Homo sapiens: one gene and its partners. The protein of the gene in region 1 binds, or shares a complex with, the protein of each later gene. Each region holds a gene or a part of one and is shown in the gene's direction. Other genes may lie near its edges.

Region 1 (7,755 bases):
GAGTAGCTGAGATTACAGGCGCCCACTACCACGCCCGGCTAACTTCTTTCTTTTTTTTATTTTTAGTAAAGACGGGGGTTCACCAAGTTGGCCAGGCTGGTCTCGAGCTCCTGACCTCAGGTTTAATTGTTATACCCCCCGGGCCCTTAACAAAGCTGTAGTGGCCAGGCTAACCTGGGCAACATAGTAAGACCCTGGTCTCTACAAAAAATACAAAAATTAGCCGGACGTGGTGGGGCAGGGCCTGTGGTCCCAGCTACTTGGGAGGCTGAGGTGGGAGGCTCACCTGAGCCCAGAGAGCCGTGATCGTACCACTGCACTCCAGGCTGAGCAAGAGTGAGACGCAATCTCAAGGGGAGGTGGGGGGAAGGAAGCTGCAGTGATCTCTGCATGGATTGGTCGTGTGTCTGATTTCTTTTTATTGTTTGTTTGTTTGTTTATTTATTTATTTATTTATTTATTTATTTATTTGAGACGGACTCTCACTCTGTCGCCCAGGCTGGAGTGTAGTGGCGCGATCTCGGCTCACTGCAACTTCTGCCTCCCGGGTTCAAGAGATTCTCCTGCCTCAGCCTCCTGAGTAGCTCGGATTGCAGGCGCGCGCCACCACGCCCGGCTAATTTTTGTATTTCGAGTAGAGACGGCGTTTCACCACGTTGGTCAGGCTGCTCTCGAACTCCTGACCTCGTAATCCGCCTGCCTCAGACTCCCAAACTGATGGGATTAAAGGCGTGAGCCACCGCGTCCGGCCGTTCGTGTCTGATTTCTATATGTGCTGCCGAAGCGAGCACTCGTGTCTAATTTTTGATTTCCCCACACCACGCACGCTGGACTAGATCACCGGCTGGGCAAGGAAGGGGGTCTGCGTCCCTGCGGGGTCCTGGCAGCTCCCGCGCCAGGACTTTGTTGAATGAATGACTGAACTGAGCGGGCGCCGCGGGGCGGGGCGTCCCGAAGCGGACCTCAAGGCGGGCGGAGGCGAGAGCTCCGCCCCGGAAGGCGGGGGCGGGGGCGGGGCGGCGGCCGTGGGTCCCTGCCGGCCGGCGGCGGGCGCAGACAGCGGCGGGCGCAGGACGTGCACTATGGCTCGGGGCTCGCTGCGCCGGTTGCTGCGGCTCCTCGTGCTGGGGCTCTGGCTGGCGTTGCTGCGCTCCGTGGCCGGGGAGCAAGCGCCAGGTACGCGGGACTCCGGGGTCGGGGAACCCCGGGCCGGGGCTCGGGAGCCGGACTGGGTGTCTGGAGAACAGCGCCGAACTGGGGGAACAGGCGGATGTGGGGATCTGGGGTCAGGTGGCCTTCAAACAGCTCGCTCCCGGCTGTGGGAAGTTCCATCACTCTCCAAGCTTCATTCACAATCCGGGCCTCAGTTTCTCCCACCGTCCAATTGGGGTTGGGGGGGGTCTTCAGTTCCACAAGTCCGAAGTACTTCGAATGGAGAGAGAAAGTGAGTGAGGGCGGGATGTTTAGTCTAGGAAGGGGCACGCCCCCAGCCTGGTCCGTACAGGGTCTAACTAGCCCCAGTGATCGACGAGTTGGGGAGGCCGTCGAGAGGCACTAGGGTCTGTGCCCTCTATACCATGTGGGGTGCCCCCTTCCATCCGGTGACTTCAGTGCCCAGCTATGCGGGGGGAGGGACTGGGGTCGGGCCCGGTGCCCAGGAGTGAGTCACCCGCCGGCGGCAGGGGGGTTGTGGGGACCTGACCCCCCCCACCCCCAGCGTCCCGCGCTACGCCCTCCCTCCCGGAGCTGCCGTGTCCCGGTCGGGCCGTGCGGTCACCTGTGAGGAATGCGCGGGGAGGGCGCCGGTGACTCACGTTATTCGAGCCGGCCGACCCTGACCTCAGACCCCAGAATAGCCGAGTCCCGCCCCCAGCCTCTGACCCGAGGCCCCCTCCCCAGGCACCGCCCCCTGCTCCCGCGGCAGCTCCTGGAGCGCGGACCTGGACAAGTGCATGGACTGCGCGTCTTGCAGGGCGCGACCGCACAGCGACTTCTGCCTGGGCTGTGAGTGGGGGGCAGGGCCAGTGGCCAGCGGACCCCAGACTGGGAGGGAGGGTGGCTGGTGCGCAGAGCGGGGCCGAGAGCTTTGCATCTGGGAAATCATTCGGGAGGAGGTGGGAGCTGGGAGGGGGCTCCGGTCAGGGAGGAGGCCACGTTTGGGAGAAGGCAGAAGGCTCAGTCTTAGGGGGCGGGGCTGGCCTGGAGAGGGGCGAGGTCTGACTCCGAGTCCCGCCCCCAGGCGCTGCAGCACCTCCTGCCCCCTTCCGGCTGCTTTGGCCCATCCTTGGGGGCGCTCTGAGCCTGACCTTCGTGCTGGGGCTGCTTTCTGGCTTTTTGGTCTGGAGACGATGCCGCAGGAGAGAGAAGTTCACCAGTAAGTGTGCCCTGGCCTGCCCAGCCCTGTCAGCACTCGACCTTTTCTCTGCTGCTGACGACCCCACCTCTTATCTTGCAGCCCCCATAGAGGAGACCGGCGGAGAGGGCTGCCCAGCTGTGGCGCTGATCCAGTGACAATGTGCCCCCTGCCAGCCGGGGCTCGCCCACTCATCATTCATTCATCCATTCTAGAGCCAGTCTCTGCCTCCCAGACGCGGCGGGAGCCAAGCTCCTCCAACCACAAGGGGGGTGGGGGGCGGTGAATCACCTCTGAGGCCTGGGCCCAGGGTTCAGGGGAACCTTCCAAGGTGTCTGGTTGCCCTGCCTCTGGCTCCAGAACAGAAAGGGAGCCTCACGCTGGCTCACACAAAACAGCTGACACTGACTAAGGAACTGCAGCATTTGCACAGGGGAGGGGGGTGCCCTCCTTCCTAGAGGCCCTGGGGGCCAGGCTGACTTGGGGGGCAGACTTGACACTAGGCCCCACTCACTCAGATGTCCTGAAATTCCACCACGGGGGTCACCCTGGGGGGTTAGGGACCTATTTTTAACACTAGGGGGCTGGCCCACTAGGAGGGCTGGCCCTAAGATACAGACCCCCCCAACTCCCCAAAGCGGGGAGGAGATATTTATTTTGGGGAGAGTTTGGAGGGGAGGGAGAATTTATTAATAAAAGAATCTTTAACTTTAAATGGTTTGGAGAGGCAGTGATCCCCGACTGACTCCCCTGAGCTGGAGGGAGGGAGTGAGTCAGCCAGCCGCGGGGGCGGGGGTGAGGCTCTGACTCACACATTCTCAATGCCTGGAACTCAGCCGGCAAGGACCTGGCTGGCCCTAACAGTTTTCCAGGGAAGATCTTGAGGAGAAACCCCAGCATCCCGCGCCTCTGCCCTCTCCACCATCCCCAAAAGCCCCAGGTTCCAGACTGAAGCCTTCCTTTGCTCAGCAATCTTTATTCAGTTCTTCTTGGGGGTGGGATGCCTCCCTTCCCATGCTCCCACCCCTCCCATCCCAGAACTCCGTTGGGCTCAGTGTCCTCTGTTGAGGGAAGGTCTTGGTGCCCAGATGCCTACTCTGCAGGAGAGGGAGGAACCTTGTCCCTTTGCGGGAGTCGCTGGTCTCTTCTGTTGTGGGGAAGAAGGAAGGTGGGAGGGGCACTGTCCACCAGCACTCAGAGCTCCATTATGTCCCCAGCTGGGGTTGCAGGGTAGGGGGGACTGGGGGTGTCCCCCAGCCTCAGCAGACGGAGGGCCTCAGGGATGAGGCTGCCAGGATAGCGCCAGAGAAGCAGCTCAGAGCAAGGGCTCCTAGAAGAGGAAATGACTGTCAGGGCATGGAGCTGAGGCTGGCCTAGCTGAGCACCTCCCACCAGGTCCAGGTCCCCAGGGGCTCCTGGGTTCCCAGCACTTTCCAAAGAGCCAAGATGGGAAACAACCCAGAGGTCAGCTAGAGCTAAAAATGGCACGATGAGGCAGGGCCTGAGGTCAGCTGTGAGGACCGCCTGTGATTCTGCAGAAGGCCTGGCCAGTGGAGGAACCTACCTGAGTGGGGGCAGGGCTGGGGAGAAGGTCATGGGGGGGCTGCAGTAGGGGTGGTCATTGTGCAGGCTGAGTTGAGAGAAGTGGGTGGCCATGTTCTCCTCAGACAGAAACTGCTTGCGCAGAGGCTCCCTGGGGAGAGATGGCAGAGAGGCAGGCTGGGATACTGACACAGGAGGCAGCCTGTTGGGGACCAGAGGTGACAGAGATCTTGTTGGGAGTCCCTCCCTGCCCCCAAACTCACTGCTCCTCCTCCAGGCGCCGCTTGGTGCTCATGGGCACAGCTCCTCGGAGAGGGGAGCTGGGAAAAAAAGAGAGCCTGGTGCACCCCACCCTCTTGGCCCCTTCCCAAGGATCTGCCCGCCTAAGCCTGCAGCATCAGCCAGGAGCCCCAAGCCCATTCCTGTCTCAGCTGGTGCCGGTCCCCGCTCTCCTGGACCATCCAGCAGGGTACCTCGGAAGTCTCGACCCTCAGCCGCAGCCCCAGTCCCATCTCAGCTCACGCCTAAGCCCCGCCGATTCGCCCCACCCCGTATTCATCCTGCAGACCAGTCCTGAGCACCCAGCCAAAGCTCCTGCGGCCCTTGGTCAGGCCCACCCTGGTCCCCTACACGCACCTGGCGTCCAGGCCCCAAGTCACCCCCAAGGCGGCCCGCGGGAGGCGCTGGGCCCCTCCCTGGGGGCCTCGCTGCAAGGGCTGCTGCAGGATCATTGGGTTTTGGGGTCCTGCGGGTGGGATCTGGGCGACAGGGGAGGAGTCTCTGAGGGCGTGGCCAAGAGAGGATGGGCGTGGCTTTAGGCGGGCACAGCCGCGAGGTTCTGCGCGGGCGCGGAAGACGGGCGGCGCGTGGCGGAAGGCAGGCTTGCTCCTCGGGGTGGGGGAGGGTATCCGGCTTAAGGGGGCTGCGGTGGACACCACTTCTTAATGTCGGGGGTCTTCGCGGCGCTCACCTCGGCTCCTAGGGTTCGGGACGGTACGCACCAGCCACCTTCGCGCCGAAGGCGGTAGGGCGCCACGGAGAGGAACCGCTCTAGGCACGTAAGGCCTCGTGAGGTTGCGTCGCGCGCGGAGCACTCTGGGACTTGTAGTTCTGGAGATGGAGCGAGCTGTGCCGCTCGCGGTGCCTCTGGGTCAGGTGAGACGGACGTGGTGCGCGTTGCCTTCTGGGGTTTGTAGTTCACGCATGGCTGGGACGGGGCGGGCAGGGAATCGTGCCCTGAGCCCTGTTTTGCCTGGGCTATTTGTGGGACTCAGACTCTGACCAGGGGGGCGGGATAGTAACCCAGAAGTGCTTCAGGGGCTTAACGCAAGTCAGAGAGTAGGAATTATAAATCAGTACGTTTTTCTATGTTGGGGTAGTAGAGGTACTTTTTTTTTTTTTTTAATTTTCTAGTTCTTGCAAAGCACTTTTTTTTTTTTTTTGAGACAGAGTCTCACTCTGTCACCTAGGCTAGAGTGCAGTGGCGCGATCTCAGCTCACTGCAACCTCCGCCTCCCAGGTTCAAGCGATTCTCCTGCCTCAGCCCTCCAAGTAGCTGGGACTATAGGCGTGTGCCACCATGCCCAGCTAATTTTCGTGTTTTTAGTAGAGACAGGGTTTCACCATGTTGACCAGGCTGGTCTCGAACTCCTGACCTCAGGTAATCTGCCTGCCTTGGCTTCTCAAAGTGCTAGGATTACAGGTGTGAGCCACCACGCCCGGCCAAATTTTTTTTTTTTTTTTTTTTTTGAGATGGAATTTCACTCTTGTTGCCCAAGCTGGAGTGCAGTGGCTCCATCTGGGTTCACCGCAACCTCCGCCTCCCAGATTCAAGCAATTCTCCTGCCTCAGCCTCCTGAGTAGCTGAGATTACAGGCATGCGCCACCACTCCCAGCTAATTTTGCATTTTTAGCAGAGACAGGGTTTCTCCATGTTGGTCAGGCTGGTCTTGAACTCCTGACCTCAGGTGGTCCACCTGCCTTGGCCTGCCAAAGTGCTGGGATTACAGGCGTGAGCCACTGCGCCCGGCCCCACATTTTTAAATTTTTTTTGAGACAGAGTCTCACTATGTTGCCCAGGCTGCTCTCAAACTCCTGGCCTCCCAGAGCGCTGGATTACAGGCATGAACCACCACACCCGGCTTAAGCACTGAGTGACAGCCCCATGTAAAGCTCTTGTCTATACACTAGCTCATCTAATTGTGATGGAATCTTCTGTGAGCTCCATTTGTCAGTTGAGGAAGCTGGCAGGAGAGGCCTGGGTGCTTGCTCAGAGGTCCCTGAGGCATCACCTCAACTCTCCCCTTCTTCAGTGTCTTCTTGGAGCCACCCATGGGACTGCATGGGCAGGTGCTGGCTTGGGGCGGGGCCGCCTCAAAAGAAGGCTGAGAAGTCAGGACAGTGGGAGGCCTGGCAGGTTTTGGGGGAAGCAGGGAGGAATCTGTGGATGGGAGGTTTCATACGTCCCAGGCAGGCCTCATCCAGTCTTTCCCTGCAGACAGAGGTGTTCCAGGCCTTGCAGCGGCTCCATATGACCATCTTCTCCCAGAGCGTCTCACCATGTGGGAAGTTTCTGGCGGCTGGCAACAATTACGGGCAGATTGCCATCTTCAGGTACCCTCTGCCGCTGTCCACCCATTAGCCCTGGCACTTGGCCCTCATGGGACGGATGCCCCCGTTTCTGACTCCTGGGTCCCCTCCGCTGTCCCTGCAGCTTGTCCTCTGCTTTGAGCTCAGAAGCCAAAGAGGAAAGTAAGAAGCCGGTGGTGACTTTCCAAGGTGGGTATACCTGTGGAGTCTGGCTTCAGGACTTTGGGTGGGATTGGCTCACTCAGTTCTGCATTTCTCTTTAGCCCATGATGGGCCCGTCTATAGCATGGTTTCCACCGATCGACATCTGCTTAGTGCTGGGGATGGGGAGGTGAAGGCCTGGCTTTGGGCGGAGATGCTCAAGAAGGTAAGGAGTCGAGCTTGGGAAAGGGCTGGGGTGCCTGGACCCAGAGAGAGCCTTTGAGGTCACCTGGTATTTTCTCTTTTGAAGGGCTGTAAGGAGCTGTGGCGTCGTCAGCCTCCATACAGGTGAGCAGGGCCACGTGGATAGAGGGTGCATCAGGGTGAAGCCACTTCCTCACTGACCTTGCCTTTCCTTCCCCAGGACCAGCCTGGAAGTGCCTGAGATCAACGCTTTGCTGCTGGTCCCCAAGGTCTGAGCCCCATGTGACTGTTCTTGGTCCAAACTTTGATCCTTCACCCTCTGCCTATCCTGATTTGACATTGACTTTCTGCCTCATCCTGCTCCTCCACAGGAGAATTCCCTCATCCTGGCTGGGGGAGACTGTCAGTTGCACACTATGGACCTTGAAACTGGGACTTTCACGGTGAGCAGGGTCCTGGAGCCCTAGAGCAGGTCTAGGTCAGGGAGAGGCACTCTTCCTAGGTCTCCTCCTGACATCGCCCCTCTACATGCAGAGGGTCCTCCGGGGCCACACAGACTACATCCACTGCCTGGCACTGCGGGAAAGGAGCCCAGAGGTGCTGTCAGGTGGCGAGGATGGAGCTGTTCGACTTTGGGGTAAGCAGGTGGCTGGTTGGAGGGCAAGATGGCAGTGAAGGAGGCTGAGGCAAGTGGGGCACCACTCACAGTTCTTTCCCCGCAGACCTGCGCACAGCCAAGGAGGTCCAGACGATCGAGGTCTATAAGCACGAGGTGAGGGTGTGACCGTGGCCATTGTCCTCTTCTCCCCCAACTCCTTGAATTCTCCAGGTCTTCACCTCTTTCCCTCCTCCCCTCCCCATCCCAGGAGTGCTCGAGGCCCCACAATGGGCGCTGGATTGGATGTTTGGCAACTGATTCCGACTGG
Region 2 (7,000 bases), on another chromosome or scaffold:
GTGCTGGGATTACAGGCGTGAGCCACCACGCCCGGCCACTAAGGTTTTTTTAATCCCTTACTTTTTATCAAAATTTTATAACAAAGATTTGACTGGTTGAGAAGTTTTTTTGTTTTGGTGTTATATTTTTATGACTATAAATAGCCTTTCCTTTTATGTTCATCATTTTTACCAAGTTCAGTTGTCTTAGCCATATGTTGCAGATATAAATTTTGCCAAGAAGGTGATTCCTTCATCAGGTTTTGTCAATTAATAACCTTCATCGTGGGCAGTTTTAGTTCTGTTTTATTTATTTACTAATAGATTGAATCAATCTATTAGTAATAGTCCCTAAACACTTGCTAAAAGACTGAAAAGTTTTATTTTATTTTATTTTATTTTATTTTATTTATTTTTTTGAGACAGAGTCTCGCTCTGTCACCCAGGCTAGAGTGCAGTGGTGCAATCTTGGCTTATTGCCAGCTCCGTCTCCCGGGTTCACACCATTCTCCTGCCTCAGCCTCCCAAGTAGCTGGGACTATAGGCGCCCGCCACCATGCCCAGCTAATTTTTTTTTTTTTTTTGTATTTTTAGCAGAGACGGGGTTTCACCGTGTTAGCCAGGATGGTCTCGATCTCCTGACCTCATGATCCGCCCGTCTCGGCCTCTCAAAGTGCTGGGATTACAGGCGTGAGCCACTGTGCCTGGCCTGAAATGTTTTATTTGTTTGGTAGTCAGTTCTCCATTTGAGGTGGTGAAGGGGGCAAAGACCTTGGGGAACAGGGATACTCAGTGAGACACAGTAGGGAAGAGCTGGAAGCCTCCACTGTCCTAGCATGGAGTTCCTGAAGGCATGCTGGGGCCAAAACGCAGGACCGGCACGTGCTGCCCAAGTTGCTCCTGACGTTATCCATGGAAAGATGAAGGAGAACCCCCTTTGGTTCAGGGAAAGAATGGGCCTTGTCATCCTTTGTGATAAAATTACTACATTACCCTCCCACATTATCTCTTTTTTGCTTGTCACATTTAATGACAAACTGTGCCCGAACCATCCCAGGTGGGTGGCAGTGGCGTCACTATTTCTCTCCGCTTGTAGCTGTGGGTCTCCAGTGTATGTGATTGTATCTTTTTCTGGGAACATACAGGGGGCCTTTTCCTGTGATGAGCATAAGATTTGGTCAAAGTGAGATAGACATAGCACCAAAGCTATACACTTGTTCTCTCTGTAGCAGAAAGGAGTCTGTTCTGCTTTTATGAAAATTGAAATTATTTCTACTGATGGTGTCATGGGACTTTGCTCCCCTGAGGTAAGGCCTTAGGCACCATATAAATCTTGAAGGGATGAGTTTTTTAAAAATTAATGATTAAGAGTACTAGTCTGTTTGATCAGACAATATAAAGCCACCTCTAGCACTTACTAGCAGTGTGATCTTGAATAAGCCATATCTTTTAAAGCCTTGAGTTTTTCCTCTATAAAATGGAAATGATAATCCTCCCTCATAGGGTTGTAAGGATGCAATGACCTCAAGCATATAAACGGTCTGGCCCACAGAAAGCCTTCAATAAATGGTGGCATTGGTCATCAGTGAGACGTGGCATTACCATCCCCAAATGCCCAAGCCTATGTTGAAGAAAGATGTTGGCTGCATTCTCACTGCTTACTGTTTTTCCTTTTCTAGTGACTTGCTGTCTCCTGACTCAGTCCTGAGTTGCTTGTATCCTGGGGATCATGGAAAGAAAACTCCGAATCCAGCCAATCAGTATCAGTTTGATAAAGTTGGGTGAGTCAGCAGTTTCCTCCTCTCCGAGCTCTCTACTTCTGAGTTTCTCTGGTGGCTCAAGCTAAATGCTGGAGACCTGTTAGGGCCAGAGGTGACCCAGAGGATAGGAAAGACCACAGGGTAGAAGGAAATGTTTGTTCTTTCTTGCTTACAAGGCAAAGGGAGATCACAAAAAGGGTGGAAGGATCAAAACTCGGAAACATGCTGGGTGTGGTGGCTCACGCCTGTAATCCCAGCACTTTGGAAGGCCAAAGCAGGTGGATTCCTTGAGCTCAGGAGTTCGATACCAGCCTGGGCAACATGGCAAAACCCTGTCTCTACAAGAAATACAAAAATTAGCCAGGCATGGTGGTGGGCATTTGTAGTCCCAGCTACTGGGGAGGTTGAGGTGGGAGAATTGCATGAGCCCAGGAGGTTGAGGCTGCAGTGAGCCATGGTCATGTCGCTGTACTCCAGCCTGGGGGCAACAGAGCCAGACCCTGTCTCAAAACAAAAACAAAAAGAAAAACAAAAAAAACCCTCTGGAAGCATAATAATACGTGATACAATAAAAATGTTTGACATTTTAATTATCCGAGGATTAATTTTTAAAAGATTTTCTAAATTGGTAGACCAATAAAGACATTAGTACACTGCCTTTGTATTTGATATTTGCTTATAAGTTGAAGGCTGCAAGAAGAAAAGGAAAAAGAGGAAAGTGAATGTGAGAGAGATGAAATTCACAGTAGGGAACTGACAAAGTTGAAGGGCTTTGCCAGCAGCCTGGCTGTGAACATGGCCAAACCTGCAGGACTGGATGGTTTGTGGGGCATGGGAGGGTGGGAGGAGGCTGTATCCTGGGACCACAGCAGAAATGACTTACAGCACAATTTTATTTATCTTCTTTTCTGCAGCATCCTGACTTTGAGCGACTATGTACTTGAGCTAGGTCACCCCTATTTGTGGGTGCAGAAGCTGGGTGGCCTCCACTTCCCCAAAGAGCAGCCCCAGGTCTGTACACTGATCTCATCTAGTTGGCTGAGGAGCTTACCTCTTCTCTTCCTGTATAGACTCTAGAAAGGCCAGGCCAGGTGCGGTGGCTCATGCCTATAATCCTTGTACTTTGGGAGGCTGAGGCAGGTGGATCACCTGAGGTCAGGAGTTTGAGACCAGCCTGGCCAACATGATGAAACCCCATCTCTACTAAAAATACAAAAAATTAGCTGGGTGTGGTGGCACGTTCCTATAATCCCAGCTATTCAGGAGGCTGAGGCAGGAGAATCACTTGAACCAGGGAGGCAGAGGTTGCGGTGAGCTGAGATCATGCCACTGCACTCCAGCCTGGGCAACAAGAGCAAAACTCCGTCTCAAAAAAAAAAAAAAAGGCCTGTCATGGCCTTTGGAGTTTTGAACTGGCAGAATGTGTCCCCTCAGGGCTGTGACCTGTCTTCTATCCACTCAGGACACTAAAATGTCTTAGACTTACAAGAGTTTACGTACCTTTTGCATTTTCTCTGAGCCTAGTAGCCTTTTAGACCCAGGCAACTTGAGTCCTTGCTCTGGGACTCATGTCTGCAGGCTCTGCTGCCCTTGTTCTTGTGTGCAAGTACCAAATATGAGGCATGAGCAGAAATCCAGGGGGCCTGGCCCCTTAGCAGAAGCCTGCCTTTCCTCAGGAGTTGGACACAGCTTCTCAAGAACGCAGCATATTGTGTTGTTTCTGCCAGGACTCAGCGTCTGGCCTGTCATAGCAGATAAACCTTGCCATGTCTAAAGGGTACCCATCTTGGGGCATGGATAATCCAGGGTGCCGCAGACAGGCAGGTCCCAGGAGAGAGATGGTGCCCGGAGGAAGGGATGGGGGAGCACACGTGTATGTGTCTCATTGTCACTCACAGCAAACAGTGATTGCTGACCACTCGCTGAGCGCCAGCCACATGGAGACCACCATGAAACTTCTGAAGACCAGGGTGCAGTCCCGCCTGGCCCTCCACAAACAGTTTGCATCCCTAGGTAAGCTGATGATGGGGCAGTGGTTTAAGAGTCACTCAGACAACACACGGACAACAACAACTTAGCCTTTCACTCAAAACTTGAATCCTGATGACAAATACAAGACCTGGATTCCTGGCTTTACGGAGTGGGCATCTTGGCAGAGCCACTGGGGAGAGCTCCAGGCCTGTCCAGGCAGAGGACCGAGCTCCCCCTTAGAGCCATCAGTGCTGTCCTGCCTCACAGAGGAGGCCCAGAGCCATTGGGTGGCACAAGTTTGTGGACTGGTCGGGGCAGTTCATCCTAGGTCATGCATTGCAGATTTTGATGTGCATTCGACACATATTTAGTGAGATCCTGATTCATGCCAGGCACTGAGCATAGTGCTGGGGGAAGAACTGAGCACAGTGAACCCCTGCCCCTGGCTCTGTGGCTCACAGTCAGCTTTTTGAATATAGCTATCCAGGGAGCAACTCGCATATCCCTTCCCCAAGGCCTACTGACCTCGTGTTCCCCAGGGTGAGGCTGAGCCTATGTTTTCTTCTAAGCTCCCAAGTGATAATGATGAGCCACTGACTTAGGTGGTGGCATTTGGGGGCTTCTTTTAGTTTATTCACTCAGTAAGTGGTTGTCAAATGCTTACCATGTGGCAGGGGGATGGGGTCAAGATTTTTCTGACCTAAAAGAGTCTCTGGGACAGGCGCAGTGGCTCTTGCCTGTAATCACAGCACTTTGGGAGGCCAAGGCAGACAGATCACTTGAGGTCAGGAGTTCAAGACCAGCCTGCCAACATGGTGAAACTCCGTCTCTACTAAAAATACAAAAATTAGCTGGGCATGGTGGTGTGCACTTGTATTCCCAGCTACTCAGGAGGCTGAAGCAGGAGAATTGCTTGAACCTGAGAGGCGGAAGTTGCAGTGAGCTGAGATCGCATCACTGTATTCCAGCCTGGGCAACAAAGCGAGACTCCATCTCAAAATAAAAAGTAAAAAATAAAAAAGAGTCTCTGTCAGGAAAGGCATTGGGTTTCCAGGACACATCTGGAGACCACTCCCCACCAGTTCTTAGACTCCACATGGCTGCCGATCTCTCCAGAGCACTGATGTTTGTCCATCGGGCCGTGCTCCCCATCAGCACTGCTGAGTTTGTTTTGTCCCAAGGTAGGGAACTTGTCATTCTGGACAGTACTTACTGTGTTGGCATATTTGCTTATTTAAATGCCAGCAGGAATTTACCCTGGAGCAGTTATCTGGCTCTTCTCCCTGACACACAACACTTCAGTTGTTTCCTCCATCAAGGTCAGCTATGAAAACACAGGCCTCTATGCTATTTGATCTAATTAACAGTCACTGCTGCAGGGGCACCCTCCCTAGTTCTGACTGTAAGGGTTTTTCTTTGGCAGGCTATCATTTGCATTAAAGAGAAAGCACCATAAGTGCTGGCACTGGATCTGGCCACAAGCACATAGCACTGGGTGAAGGTCAGGTTGACATGCTTGCATTCCTGGCACGTGTTGACCTGGGTACTTCCTGAGTACCAGGTATACCAGGATAGCTGGCCGGGCCATCTGAGCCCTTCAGAGAGCCCCAGGAGGATGCTAGTTACCCATCTGTGGCACCTGATTTCTACCTGTGACGTCATCTGTCTTGTTCTCTTTTAGAACATGGCATTGTGCCAGTTACCAGTGATTGCCAGTACCTCTTCCCTGCCAAGGTTGTCTCTCGCCTGGTGAAATGGGTGACAGTTGCCCATGAGGATTACATGGTAGGTGAAGGAGTGACAAGTTACCCTTACTGTCCTGAGGATTGCAGGACCATGTCACCTTTCAGCTCCTGCCACCTCACTGGAAGAGCAGGGGGTTTAACCAGAGGAGCCAGCAGTTCACCTCTTGTCTGTGGTACCTCTTCTAGGAGCTGCACTTCACCAAAGACATTGTGGATGCGGGACTGGCTGGGGACACCAATCTCTACTACATGGCGCTCATCGAAAGGGGCACAGGTAATTGCTCTGCTGATTACAGGGGTTCTAGACAAAGGGCGCTGCCAAGAATCAAACACTCTCCGGGGCTGCCCAAAGCAGAAGATCCTGGAGTCCTGCAAGGACTTAACAGATAATAATGATCGTGAGAGCCTGTTCAGCAAGGACTCATTCTGCAACACAGTCACACACACGCTGTGTATCACTGAACCCTCACTGCAGTCCTAGGGGTGGTGCTTTCATTTCTATTTTACATGGGAGGAAATTCAGGCTTAGTTGCAAGCCCAGTCTGAGCGCTGAGCCTGAGCTCTTTGCTCCTTCCTTCACCGCTTTCTAGTACCGGACATCTCCTCCTTCTCCCTCTTCATAACAGGGCTGAGGTGTCACCCTCAGGTTGTAAAGGGCAGGGCCACAGGGCCTCGCTCCCTCTTCTGCAGTCCCTGCACTCACTTTAGAGGCATTGAAAGCTCTGATTCTTCATACCTCTTCTGGCATCTGACTCTGCCAGGGCTCCCTGCTGAAGTCCTGGGATGTTGTGTTTGGGCCGTTGTGCTGTTGTCCCACCCAAGCCGCAGCAAGCCTGGCACTGCCCGTGGGATCTGACACCCTCAAGACTTGGTGCTGAGCTGAGGAAGTTGTCTGTAGTTCTAAGACAGTTCCAGAACTGTAAGGAAAGGCTGAACTCTTTGGTATCAGAGTTTCTGTCCTCACTACCCCACTTTCTTCTCTTTCTATTCTTCATGTCTTTTAAAAAAAAAATTCTGAAGAAACTGAATATTTCAGATACAGTTGAGGCCTCCCTATCCCACTTTATTCCCTTTCTCCTAATAAGTGACCACTATTTGGATTTTATGCATTTGCTTTCCATCCTTTCCCCGCTACACCCTTTTTTTTTTTTTTTTCAGTAGAGATAAGGTCTTGCTTTGTCGCCCAGGCTGGAGTGCAGTGGCACGATCATAGCTCACTGCAATCTTGAACTCCTGGACTCAAGCAATCCTTCTTCCACCTTAGCTCCCTGAGTAGCTGCGACTACAGGTATGCTACCATGCTCAGCTAAGATTTTTTGTTTTTGTTTTTGTTTTTTTGTAGAGGCATGTTCTTACTATGTTGCCAAGCCTGGTCTCAAACTCCTGGCCTTTCTTCCAAAGTGCTGGGATTGTAGGCATCAGCCATCATGCCTGGCCTCTCCCCTTTCAAAATTTAATTTAACTTATTTTTTGAGACAGGGTCTTGCTCTGTTGCCTAGACTGGAGTACAGTGGCTCAGTCATGGCTCACTGCAGCCTCAACTGC
Region 3 (7,000 bases), on another chromosome or scaffold:
TGGGTTAATTAATGATTAAGAAATCACCCAGAAAGCAATACAGAAGGAGCAGAGTTAGAAACGATGACTTAATGATAGTTGAGGAGGTCCAGCAAACATCTGATGGCAGAAAGAAATAATAGAGAATGGGAAAGAGGCAATAATTGAGTTAATTATTAAGAATAGGCATGAATTCATAGGTTCAAGAAGTATAATACTTAAGGAGGATAAACCAAATAAATCCATATCTCTGTACATGATAATAAAGTCACCAGAGAGAAAAAACAGACAACCTACAAAGGAGCAAAGTTAAACTAACAGTTGACTTCAAGAACAACAAAAATCAGAAGACAGTGGGATGAGTGCTTGAAAATGTCTTTCACATTCTCTATTATTTCTTTCTGCCATTAGATGTTTGCTGGACCTCCTCAACTATCATTAACTCATCGTTTCCAACTCTTGCTCCTTCTGTATTGCTTTCTGGGTGATTTCTTAATCATTAATCCAGTAATTCTTACTTTCCCTATGTCCAGACTGCTGTTAAACCTGCTCGTTTTGTAAATTCAATGACTATATTTTCTCATTTCTAGAAGTATTACTTGCTTTTTCAACATTTCAACTAAAAAATTCTGTAACAAGTTAAACAGTTGTGGTTGAGTGATTGACTAAAACTATGAGAAATTATCAACAGTCCCCAGTAAAAAAGCTGTCTTAAGGAAACTGAACCCAGAAAGGAGTAAATTGCAGAAAGGATTACTGTGTAGACACTTTGGTAAACATGAAGAAATCTGAATAAATCTTATCAAGAATTCACTGTTATAAAATAGTAATAATTATTATTTAGGGTTATTTTAAAAGGTAAACTTGATAAAAGTGACATGTAAGACAAGAAGGGGTGGTCAGAATTAAAGAATGTTATGGTTTAAGTCAAACATGCTTGTAAAGTATGTGAAAGAAATGGAATATGTAATTTTTAAATAAATTGAGGGGTAAAAGTAAATACAGAAAATTTAAGCAAGTAAATTAGAAGGTAGGAGAGGAGGAAAAAAGCACAGAAAACACAACAGAAAGTACAAAACAGTATGGTTAAATTCAAATATAAATGGAAATGGACTTTCTGGCTCAAAGACAGAAATTGGTGTTATATTTTAAAGATCTATCGGCCAGGCGCGGTGGCTCATACCTGTAATCCCAGCACTTTGGGAGGCCAAGGCGGGCGGATCATGAGGTCAGGAGATAGAGACCATCGTGGCTAACACGGTGAAACCCCGTCTCTACTAAAAATACAAAAAATTAGCCAAGTGTGGTGGCAGGCGCCTGTAGTCTCAGCTACTTGGGAGGCTGAGGCAGGAGAATGGCGTGAACCTGGGAGGCGGAGCTTGCAGTGAGTCGAGATCGCACCACTGCACTCCAGCCTGGGCGACAGAGCGAGACTCCGTCTCAAAAAAAAAAAAAAAAAAAAGATCCATCTATATGTTTATAAGAAATATACCTTAAAAATAAAGATATGGAAAGGTTGAAACTGAAAGAACTTTTAAAAGACGTAATTTTTAAAAGGCATAGTTATATTGATATCAGGCAGAAAAGGCTTAAAAGCAGAAAGCATTATTAAAAATAAAGGCAATCATTGCATAAAGATAAAAGGAAAAAATAGAAATATACACATTTTAAACTTTATTTTCTAAGAATGTGTTCTCAAAAATTTGACAAAATTAGAATGAGAAGTTGACCCAGGGTCAGTTTTCACCATCCACCACCACCCAGAAAACCTACCATCTAGTAGGATTTTGACAGACCTTTCTCAGAATTTAATAAATTTGGTGGAAAAAACTTAGTGTAATACATTTAGAATTTAACAAAATAATTAACAGGCTTGGTCTTACAGAAACCACAAGTTTTTGTAAATTATGTGTGAATAGCAAAAGCAAAAATACTTACAACTCCTTTAAACACACTTCTAAATAACCCTTGAATCAAAGAAGTCATAATGGAAATTGGAAAATGTAGAGCTAAATAATAATGAAAACACTACATGTTCAGACTTTTGAGATCTAACTCAGTAGAACACAGAAGAGAAATGTATAGCCTTAAGTGTTTACACTTTCAAAAAGAATGAAATCTAAAAACCAAGCTAATAAGAGTCTGACACTGAGAGTCATTCAGAAGAAAAGTAAACTCATAGAAGTAGAAAGTAAAATAAGATTAGAAATCAGTAAAATAGACAACAAACAATAGAGAAGATAACAAAATCAAAAGAGAAGATCAATAAAAACAAAAACCAGGAAAAATAGATAAAATTCTAACATGATTGATTCCTGCCAAATCTGTGAGAGTGAATCAACCCAGTAGAAAAATGTACAAATGAATAGTCAGATTCAGAAGTAGAAACCTTAATAAACCTCTGAGAAGACGGGGAACTTCACTAGTAACTGGAAGTACAGTTAAAAACTACAGCAAGCAGTTTCCAGCTAAGAGATTCAGTAATTTAAAAATACCCAGATTTTATAAGAATTATGGATAAAAATAATTTGCCAGTGCTGCTGGTAGGAGTCTGATGGCACAGTCACTCTATCTGAATGTTAAAGATGTCTGTGCCCCACTAGTAGGTGTGTTGATCAGAATAGTGTTTTTAAAAACTAAGTTTGAGAATCATTGGTGGTTTGTAAAGTCAATTTAGTAATTTCAACTAGCATTTTTTAAATGAAATAGGAAATATACTTTTGTGAAGCATTAGCTTTACTTATATATATCTGTACATATACTTGCATATATGTGTGTACTGGGTTGCAGTGTAAAATGAATTTCTTATTGTGGGTTGCAGTGGAAGTTTGAAGGCCCAGTGCCTAAAGAAATCAGTTCATCTACAAGGAGACAGGTGCAAGAATGTTCATTTAACATTGTCAGAGCAAAGAGTGGGAAGACAAATATCTCTGTGTAGGACATGGATAACTTGGGGCATGTTCATAAAATGGAATATAGTATCTGTAGCATTAGAAAATGAATGGATATTGGGATAGTTTTCTTAAAAGAGCCCATTTTCCTAGTTTTACTCTAGAAGATGTCTTCTGATCCTGAGACCTCATTTCTTTGCTTGACCCTGTATCAAAATTTTATTTCTAAAAACAAATTCAAGAAAGATGCATTTTAAAAATCAACCATGCTACCATGGTAACAATTTAAATAAGAGCTAAAGGTTAAACCCTTGAAATCGTATTATGGTCTGATTATTAGTTTTGGTTTAATTCTGGTTTAAAGAAAAAATAATTCGTGGATAGGGACTTAATGTAAAAGTTTATTTGCTGGTAAAATTCAAATGCTATAAAATACCCTGGCTGCCCTCTTTGAATAGCAACATATTTATATATTATAGTGTGTAATTAAAGTATATAATATTATATGTAGTAAATACTATGTAATATTTAGTATTAGACTATCCCCTTTATTTATTGTCCTTTTTGAATTTAGTTTTGACGGTTTTACTTCCTTAAAAGTCTGGAGTTCCCACGTAATCAAAACTGTAACTAAAAGTATGGGGCCATTAGAATCTTGTCCTGCCACCACTTTATGAGTATTTATTATTAAGAGTATATGCCATCCTCACTGGTTATTTTGTACCGCTCAGGGAACACATGCCCACAATCTTGTCCTGCCACCACTTTATGAGTATTTATTATTAAGAGTATATGCCATCCTCACTGGTTATTTTGTACCGCTCAGGGAACACATGCCCACAATCTTGTCCTGCCACCACTTTATGAGTATTTATTATTAAGAGTATATGCCATCCTCACTGGTTATTTTGTACCGCTCAGGGAACACATGCCCACAATCTTGTCCTGCCACCACTTTATGAGTATTTATTATTAAGAGTATATGCCATCCTCACTGGTTATTTTGTACCGCTCAGGGAACACATGCCCACAATCTTGTCCTGCCACCACTTTATGAGTATTTATTATTAAGAGTATATGCCATCCTCACTGGTTATTTTTGTACTGCTCAGGGAACACATGCCCACAATCTTGTCCTGCCACCACTTCATGAGTATTTATTATTAAGAATATATGCCATCCTCACTGGTTATTTTTGTACCGCTCAGGGAACACATGCCCACTTTGGAGGAATTCTTTGAAGAAGCCATTGAACAGGCAGACCCTGAAAATATGGTGGAAAATGAATATAAGTAAGTATGCTCCTCATTAGCTCCTTTTAATTTTCTTCAATTTGTTTCTTCCTTAGGAATTGTGTGTATACTAGAAAGCCTCTTAAGAGAGGCAGTAGATAGAATAGTGCTTTTTCTCTTAGGTGAGTTTATGTTCCAAGTTCTTGTTAGTACACATCCTGATTTCAAGGATTATTCCTGTTAACTAAGCATGACTTGGAATCACCCTTGTTTCAAAATATAAGAAAAAAAAAACTCCCCCTGATCCCCATTTCTCTCCAACTATTAGTTCTGTTCTCTCTACCCTTCAAAGCACAGTATCTCACAGCAGCTGTTAACCTATCCTGTTCCCCTTAATGTTTTCTTCTCTTGGCGTCCATGAGAATCCAAATCCATGGTTCTTCTGTTTGCCCTTTGCCCTCGTTGCCCACTCCACCTCACATTCCATTTCAGCCTCCTCATCCTCTGCCTAACTCAAATTTTGGAGTAACATCAGGAATTGGTCTTAGCCTCTTTATCTAGAACCTTCTGGGTGACACCGCAGTCTCATGGCTTTAAATAGGAATTGAAGAGTAGTGGTTTAAAGGCAAGAGGCCTCTGGTCAGAATGCATAGGTTCGATTCCCTCTACCACTTACTTACTAGGCAACTAAGGCTAATTTAATTATTAAACCGCCAGTTCCCTTTCCTCATCTGTTAAATAGTAACAGTACCCATTTCACAGGGTTATTCTGAGGATTAAATAAGACAGTGCACTTTGAACCCTACAGGGCATGTGGTTAGCACTCAGTATTTGTGACTAGTGTGACCCTGTGACCAGAGTTGTTAATTACTGTGACCTCTTAACTAATCTCTCTAGTTGTGGTCAGTGCTCCATGCATCAGCCAGTGATCTTTAAAATAATTGTCCAAGTCTAATCTGCTTAAAATCTCCCAGTGAGTGCCTATTCCAAACTCCTTCCCAGGGCCTAAAAGACCTCCTTGGTCTGGCTCATACTCTCCTGTGTGGCCATGCCTCCCCTCTGCTTTAACCACAGCAGGCCTCTTGGTCCTGTCTTTCCCTTTCCTGTCAGGACCTTCACACTTTACTGTCTCACTTGCTTGAACCACTTTTTCCCCAAGGTTGCCGTGGCTTAAAGTCCCCCTGGCTGGGAAGCTCTTCCCCTCCCTGGTCTCCTCTTTTGCATTCTCGTGGTTTTTATTTCACGGCACTTACCACTATCCAAATGAGAAGGTGGCACTTACCACTTTCTCATTTCTCAAGTTTTCCTCATCCTTATGAAATTGTCTTATACCTTGTGTGTTTATCACTAGCAATGCCTGCCTTACTGTGCCTCAGGTACTCTCCACAGCTACTGAGTGCCTGGCTCAAAAGTGTTTGTCGATTGAAAGAATATTAATTTATCACTGTTACATAAGACTAGGTGGACTCATTCCTAAAGTGATAGTTCAAATTATTATCTCCAAAGAGGGTTTTGTGGAGAATAAGAAAAATGATGTGTATAATTGACAGTGAATTTTGAAAATGCCTAAAATAATCAAATTGTCTAAACAGATATGTCAGAGAGGAAGGCTCTTAACTGTTTAGGCAAAGCCTCACAGCAGGTGTTAACTTGGGAAGAGTCCCCAGTGTCTATGGGTAGTTTTTGTTAAGTCTTCAGTGGTACCTGCACATCCTAAAGGTAACATATGCTTATTTATAAGAGGTGACCAAATAAACCAAATTGCTATTCTTAGGGGAGGAAGAGACTTCCAATCCAAAACTCTTAAATGGAATAAATTTGTGGTTTGGTTTCTTCCGCAGCATTGCATATTTCTGACGCATTATCTTTAGAATTTCTCTGCAGTTTGTTTCTCACCTGATGGTATACCACCCTGATCATTGTTATACTTCATTAGGGAACAGTTCATGGATTCCAAATAGCTAGATGGATGATTCCTGTTGTATACGTACTGCATCCAGCCAGTACTGCACACACTTGTTGACTTGTTAAAATTAAACAAAATGAACGGAAACTTTGAAAATGTGTTTGCTGCATATGAGCCTGCCTCTTCAGGCATTGTTGGTTCCTGTGATTAGTTACATGTGCATCTATTGGTTTGTTATTATCAGTGGACTACATACTGAAAAGTTCTTTAGGAATAAGATTCAAATACAAAGAATGGCACTTTGAGCTATTTACCTTAAATACAGAATTACACATGGCAGAACTGAGCAGAAGGGAATACAGAAATACAAAGCTATAAATTACAAGCCTGACACCTCTTTTTATAGGGCTGTGAACAATTCAAATTATGGTTGGAGAGCCCTGAGACTATTAGCACGGAGAAGCCCTCACTTCTTCCAGCCAACCAACCAGCAGTTTAAAAGTTTACCAGAATATCTTGAAAATATGGTAATAAAGCTAGCCAAGGAATTACCGGTAAGTACCATAGATCAACTTTTCATACCCTTTAGTTGACATCTTCTTTAAAATTGCTGTCACTATGTGAGCAAAAAACTGACTTAATCATGTGAAAAACCAGTGATCCACAAGCTCCCATGTTTTAGAATGAGGGAAAAACACATTGGAATATACATTTACAGGAAATACATGAGTTGATAAAGAAGTAACTGATAATTTTCTGTACAGCATGTAATTTAAAGTTCAACAGGGCTGTGGGTGCGGTGGCTCACGACTGTAATCCCAGCACTTTGGGAGGCCGAGGCGGGTGGATCATGAGGTCAAGAGATTGAGACCATCCTGGCCAATATGGTGAAACCCCGTCTCTACTAAAATATAAAAAATTAGCCAGGTGTGGTGGCACGTGCCTGTAGTCCCAGCTACTCAAGAGGCTGAGGCAAGGGAATTGCTTGAACC

Evidence for each region.
Region 2: the proteins of THOC6 (region 1) and THOC5 are in contact, whole or in part, in a cryo-EM structure (PDB 7APK), measured with the Homo sapiens proteins. Residues at the interface, in NP_001334633.1 of Homo sapiens: Val5, Pro6, Ala8, Val9, Pro10, Leu11, Gly12, Gln13, Val16, Phe17, Leu20, Gln21, Leu23, His24, Met25, Thr26, Phe28, Tyr45, Tyr80, Asp94, Glu125, Val126, Pro127, Glu128, Asn130, Gly146, Tyr170, His172, Glu188, Trp222; in NP_001002877.1 of Homo sapiens: Pro406, Gly407, Asp538, Ile539, Val540, Asp541, Ala542, Gly543, Leu544, Ser575, Ile576, Ser593, Asp596, Arg599, Glu602, Gly603, Asn606, Val607, Tyr609, Arg660, Phe662, Arg663, Gly664, Pro665, Ser666, Arg667.
Region 3: the proteins of THOC6 (region 1) and THOC1 are in contact, whole or in part, in a cryo-EM structure (PDB 7APK), measured with the Homo sapiens proteins. Residues at the interface, in NP_001334633.1 of Homo sapiens: Leu57, Ser58, Ser59, Glu60, Pro312, Glu313, Lys315, Thr330, Asn331, Gly333, Tyr334, Ala336; in NP_005122.2 of Homo sapiens: Ser227, Pro229, Ile230, Asp231, Tyr232, Leu234, Arg236, Val270, Ser273, Tyr274, Asp309, Leu312.

Annotation. Positions count from the first base shown.
Region 1 is NC_000016.10:3,019,316-3,027,070, forward strand, and holds the start of THOC6 (THO complex subunit 6), read left to right. Parts: upstream 1-4,719; 5' UTR 4,720-5,011; coding exon 5,012-5,050; intron 5,051-6,392; coding exon 6,393-6,508; intron 6,509-6,608; coding exon 6,609-6,673; intron 6,674-6,747; coding exon 6,748-6,851; intron 6,852-6,935; coding exon 6,936-6,973; intron 6,974-7,049; coding exon 7,050-7,098; intron 7,099-7,200; coding exon 7,201-7,272; intron 7,273-7,363; coding exon 7,364-7,466; intron 7,467-7,551; coding exon 7,552-7,601; intron 7,602-7,695; coding exon 7,696-7,755. Other genes in the region: TNFRSF12A (tumor necrosis factor receptor superfamily member 12A precursor), read left to right, coding at 1,083-1,176, 1,900-2,004, 2,240-2,374, 2,456-2,511; HCFC1R1 (host cell factor C1 regulator 1), read right to left, coding at 3,548-3,683, 3,918-4,046, 4,159-4,215, 4,532-4,626. UniProt on the Homo sapiens protein: Component of the THO subcomplex of the TREX complex which is thought to couple mRNA transcription, processing and nuclear export, and which specifically associates with spliced mRNA and not with unspliced pre-mRNA.
Region 2 is NC_000022.11:29,515,758-29,522,757, reverse strand, and holds part of THOC5 (THO complex subunit 5), read left to right. Parts: intron 1-1,658; coding exon 1,659-1,760; intron 1,761-2,653; coding exon 2,654-2,750; intron 2,751-3,637; coding exon 3,638-3,752; intron 3,753-5,391; coding exon 5,392-5,495; intron 5,496-5,641; coding exon 5,642-5,729; intron 5,730-7,000. UniProt on the Homo sapiens protein: Component of the THO subcomplex of the TREX complex which is thought to couple mRNA transcription, processing and nuclear export, and which specifically associates with spliced mRNA and not with unspliced pre-mRNA.
Region 3 is NC_000018.10:216,048-223,047, reverse strand, and holds part of THOC1 (THO complex subunit 1), read left to right. Parts: intron 1-4,078; coding exon 4,079-4,162; intron 4,163-6,414; coding exon 6,415-6,562; intron 6,563-7,000. UniProt on the Homo sapiens protein: Component of the THO subcomplex of the TREX complex which is thought to couple mRNA transcription, processing and nuclear export, and which specifically associates with spliced mRNA and not with unspliced pre-mRNA.